2 separate regions of the Homo sapiens genome follow, and region 1 is linked to region 2. Evidence: fine-mapped expression QTL. Tissue or cell type: blood mononuclear cells. Region 2 holds a variant in brackets; the other region holds the start of a gene. All regions are shown on one strand. Distances are between the middles of the regions.

Region 1 (2,762 bases), 25 kb after region 2:
GTGGAGCTTTTATGCTGGATTTACGTGATGAATGGAATAAACTGATTCAAACATTAGAAGGGACATGCTTAAAAAAAAAACCTACCACAATTAAAATTTTGGAACATGATCTTAAATTCCTGTGAAAGGGCATGAAGAGTTTGTGTGTGTGTTTCGTTTTTTGAGACGAAGTCTTGCTCTGTCGCCCAGGCTGGAGTGCAGTGGCACAATTTCTGCTCGCTGCAACCTCTGCCTCCCAGGTTCAAGTGATTCTCCTGCCTCAGCCCCCCGAGTAGCTGGGATTACAGGCACCTGTCACCACGCCCGGCTAATTTTTGTATTTTTAGTGGAGACGGGTTTTCACCATGTTGGCCAGGCTGCTCTCAAAACTCATGACCTCGTGATCCCCCCCACCCCCCGTGCCTCGGCCTCCCAAAGTGCTGGATTTTACAGGCATGAGCCACCTTGCGGTATGTTAATTTGGGGGAAAACAACAGGGACAATTGGGGAAAAATTTTGTTTTGTGAATTACCAATGGAAGAACTAATCACAGGCTAAGCAACATGCTTACGGTTGAATTTGCCAAATTTAAGATGTACATACTATGATGTAGCATGTGTATTTATTTGCACATGCAGTGGGACAATTCCTACAGTTGTCTCACACTGCTGTAGATTATTAGCAACTCCATCCTGCAGTGACATCGCTTTTCTGAATTCTATAGCACTTTTCACCTAATCCTCTGATTAGTCTGTATTTTCCGGTTCAAGTGTATCTTGTTTTTCGTTTGCTCCACTTCCCTTGTCCCTTGCACCCCACTAACAGGAAAATTCCTGGTGGTCAAAATGGCTCTAATTCTTTTTGTATACCCGGGCTTAATTCAATAGGAATTGGGATAACTTTTCAATATTTAAAAAATTTGCACTGTGAAAACGTATATTTTAAACTCTTTCTACAACTTTTCATATTTGAAGAACATATGGCAGGAAGTGGATGCTTTTGATGAAGCCAAAAGAATTTTTTTAACTTCTATTGCTAATTAACAAGGAGGTGGCCGCGGGAGCTCTTTTTTTTTTTTTTTTTTTGAGACGGAGTTTCACTCTTGTTGCCCAGGCTGGAGTGCAGTGGCGCGATCTCAGCTCACCGCAACCTCCGCCTCCCGAGTTCAAGCGATTCTCCTGCCTCAGACTCCCGAGTAGCTGGGATTACAGGCATGCACCACCAGGCCCCGCTAATTTTGTACTTATAGTAGAGACGGGGTTTCTCAGGCTGGTTCGAACTTCCGACCTCATGTGATCCACCCGCCTCCGCCACCCAAAGTGCTGGGATTACAGGCGTGAGCCACCGCGCCCGGGCCAGGCGGGAGCTTTAGGTCTTATTTTATCTTGCTCTGCCCCCGACATCGTGGTGAGAGGGGAACCTTCCTCATATCTGGGCGCTGGCCTCTCCGGGCTTGGGAGAGAGGAACTCAGTGATCATAGAGCTGGCCGAATGCCGGGGTAGAGGGGACCGGAAGTTGTTTTTTTCGCCCCCGCCCAGCGGCCGGATCGCATCTCAGCTGGTTGGCTTTGGTTAGAGCTCCCGTCAGACTTTAGTTCGGCCCTAGGATTTGGTAGCCCCGAAGTGTGGGCTCTCTCCAGTACCAGACTCATTTCAGTACCAGCCTTTGGGAAGTCGTGTGAATACCTCGGTCTCTTAGCCACAGGGATAGAATGGCGGCCTGACGGAGCCGCGGCGCCGGCGAAGTCGCTGAGGCGCGAGCTGGAACCCCCAGACCAGCTCAAACGGGAGCCAAAACTCGAAGCTTGGAAGAATTAGCAGGAAATGGCGGATGAGGCGTTGTTTTTGCTTCTCCATAACGAGATGGTGTCTGGAGTGTACAAGTCCGCGGAGCAGGGGGAGGTGGTGAGTGCTGCCACACAACCTTGAGGTCCTTTTGCGGTGACACACCTTGTTTCCCCTCAGTGCTTTCCTTCAACCCCTGTCCCATCGCCACCCGACGCCTCCCGAGGTGTACACAAAATGGTCCACCTCCAGGTGTCCTAAACCCTAGAACCTGTCAGTTGTCTCCTTTGAACCGTCATCTTTCATCGTTTTCTCTTTCGTATCTTCTTCTATTTGATTCTCTTTTGTCTATTCCCGTACGTTTGTCTTGCACGCCACAGATTTTGGTACTTTTAGTGTTGTCCCTGCCATTATTTACGAGAGGGTTAACTGCAGAGCCTACTTAGTTTTGCTGGCACTTCCAGCACTTGAGCCATGCACTGGACAGACCTGTGCCAACCTGAGAAGCCTGTCCCTCCTTCCTCATTCCTAATGCTCAGTACAACTCCACACAACTTGAGACCTGAAGCCTAATGAAGGTTGAGTTTGCAAAGGAAAGTTTGCAGGCGTTAGGATAATTAGGGAACATAATTTAAATTAATTATTTCAGAAAGTATTTATTTAGTGCCCTTATGTCAGAGCGATTTCTAGGTGCCAGGGATATAGTAGTGAATGAAACAATGGCCCCATCCTTGTAGAGATTTTTTTTTAATCTAATTTAATCCGAAATGTGATAGTATGTAGCGGTTACTTCTAATATGTGGGAGTCCTTATTCAATCATTGTGGGCCTGTCACTGCTGACACTGCTAGATAAATTAAATAAAATAATACTCCTGCCTCACAGTATTTAGGGAATAGTGATTTAATGAATAGTTAACACTGAGTATTGGCTGGTAGAATCATGGAGTTGTAACGGATTTTAGAAATACTCCAAAGTCATGCTCAAGTCAGGAGCCCT
Region 2 (2,762 bases):
GTCTATTTTACAGTTTTTCTTTTATACAAAACAATGAAAAAAAATTTTTTTGAGACAGGGTCTTGCTCTGTCACCCAGGCTGGAGTGCAGTGGTGCGATCATGGCTCACTGCTGCCTTGACCTTCTGGGCTCAAGCGATCCTCCTACCTCAGCCTCCCAGGTAGCTGGGACTTTAGGTGCGTACCACCACACCCGGCAAATTTTTTTTTTTTTTTTTTTGAGACAGGGTTTCACTATGTTGCCCACGCTAGTCTTGACTCCTGAACTCAAGCGATCAGCTTGACTTGGACTCCCAAAGTGCTGAGATTACAGACATGAGCCACCACACCCAACCGAAACATTTTTTAAAGCAAAAACATACACGATTTAAAATAAAATATCCAGAAATAACTGCTTCAAACTTGCTTTTAAGGTCAGTTTCAAAATTGCTTGAGAATAGGCTTGAGAGTAGGCCAGGCCAGGTGGCTCATGCCTGTAATCCCAGCACTTTGGGAGGCTGAGGTGGGCAGAACACTTGAGATCAGGAGTTCAAGACCAGCCTGGCCAACGTGGTGAAACCCCCGTCTCTACTAAAAACATAAAAATTAGCCAGGAGTGGGCTGGGCGCGGTGGCTCACGCCTGTAATCCCAGCACTTTGGTAGGCTGAGATGGGTGGATCATGAGGTCAGGAGTTCAAGACCAGTCTGGCCAAGATGGTGAAACCCTCTCTATTAAAACTTCAAAAATTAGCCAGGCGCAGTGGCAGGCGCTTGTAATCCCAGCTACTTGGGAGGCTGAGCCAGGAGAATCACTTGAAACTGGGCGGCAGAGTTTGCAGTGAGCCAAGATCGCGCCACTGCACTCCAGACTGGGCGACAGAGTGAGATTCCGTCTCAAAAAAAAAAAAAATTGGCCAGGAGTGGTGGCGGAAATCCCAGCTACTTGAGAGGCTGAGGCAGGAGAATCGTTTGAACCCAGGAGGCAGAGGTTGCAGTGAGCCAAGATCTTGCCATTGCACTCCAGCCCGAGAGACAGAGCAAAACTCTGTCTCCGCCCCCGCAAAAAAAATTGCCGGAGAGTAAAGGTGAAGCTCACATAATATTGGAGAAAATTTGGTTAAGCTCTGAGAGTAATTAATTAATTTAGGCAAGATGAGAAAAGTGCTCTTATTGAAAGACATTATAAAGTGATGGATTTAATATACTCAAAGACATAAGAAAACATAATTGACTCTGGGTGGTTGGGGGAAGGGAAATGAACACACTAAATAAAATTAGAGGATACTTTAATTTTTTATCACATTTTATTTATTTCACTAGATGATAAGGTTCATAAGTATTTGCTATAATTTTGGCTATTTTTTCTTGTCTGAAATATTACATAGTAAAATGTTTTAACTGGATGACAAGTAGAGATAAAGTGAATTCTGTTTGAAAAAATTACATACTAATGAATTACGACTTTGCTATGGTCTGAATATCTGTGT[T/C]TCTCCCAAATTCATATGTTGAAATTCCAACCCCCAACATGATGGTATTAGAAGGTGAATTACAAATTGTATTGACTTATTTTGCTTATTCTTTGTCATATTTAAACTTATAACTGAGAAGACATTAATTTGCAAAGAAAATACATTTTTAACAAGATACATGAAATTTTCAGTGAACTTGGAGTTAACTAGGAAAAATGCATAGTTCTAGCCAAATCTACTACAAGCAAAACTTCAAGAGTAGTAGCGGCACTGAGGCTACTGTGCACTTGAAATGTACACCCAGCTTGTGTAACATTTTCCAAGAATACCTCTCATCAAAACTTTTGCTTCTAAAGAGTTTTCTATATATATATATATATATATATATATATATATATATATTTTTTTTTTTTTTTTTTTTTTTTTTTTTTTTTTTTTTTTTGAGACGGAGTCTCTCTGTCACCCAGGCTGGAGTGCAGTGGCGCGATCTCGGCTCACTGCAGGCTCCGCCCCCCGGGGTTCACGCCATTCTCCTGCCTCAGCCTCCCGAGTAGCTGGGACTACAGGCGCCCGCTACCTCGCCCGGCTAATTTTTTGTATTTTTAGTAGAGACGGGGTTTCACTGTGTTAGCCAGGATGGTCTCGATCTCCTGACCTCGTGATCCACCCGCCTCGGCCTCCCAAAGTGCTGGGATAACAGGCGTGAGCCACCGCGCCCGGCCGAGTTTTCTATATTTTTAATTGGAGGGTTTTTTTTGTTGTTGTTGTTTTGTTTTGTTTTTTTTGAGATGTGGTCTCTGTCGCTCAGGCTGGAGTGCAGTGGCATGATCTTGGCTCACTGCAACCTCCACCTCCTGGGTCAAGTGTTTCTACCACCTCAGCCTCCCAAGTAGCTGGGGCTACAGGCTTGCACCACTACACCTGGCTAATTTTTCTATTTTTAGTAGAGATGGGGTTTCACCATGTGGGCCAGGCTGGTCTCAAACTCCTGACCTGAGGTGATCTGCCCGCCTTGTCCTCCCAAAGTGCTGGGATTAAATGGCAGATTCCATATGTGAGGAGGTGTGTACACATATATATGTAAACAAAATAAAATAACAGTGGTTTGAATATTCATTGAGGGGAAACACGTGCAATTCTATGACATAAATTAATTAACTAGAAAATTTATATAAAGAAATTATACAGAATTCAGAATAGAGAGACATAAAAATGTGAAAGATAGATTCAAAAATACTTAGAACAGGTCGGGCACGGTGGCTCACGCCTGTAATCCCAGCACTTTGGGAGGCCGAGGTGGGCGGATCACGAGGT

Evidence for each region. PIP is the estimated chance that this variant, and not a neighbour inherited with it, causes the effect.
Region 1: TRAPPC6B starts here. The variant in region 2 is fine-mapped to the expression of TRAPPC6B in blood mononuclear cells (TOPMed, PIP above 0.99).

The regions. Positions count from the first base shown.
Region 1 is chr14:39,169,137-39,171,898 of GRCh38, reverse strand. TRAPPC6B (trafficking protein particle complex subunit 6B) reads left to right here and starts at 1,566. Exons shown (of 6, transcript NM_001079537.2): 1 at 1,566-1,884. The coding sequence starts at 1,804. RefSeq lists enhancers at 339-928, 1,710-1,759, 1,519-2,108.
Region 2 is chr14:39,193,860-39,196,621 of GRCh38, reverse strand. No RefSeq gene overlaps it. Among named protein-coding and RNA genes, the nearest start is that of PNN-AS1, 19 kb to the right of the region's middle. The variant T/C (reference allele first, on the strand shown) is at 1,467.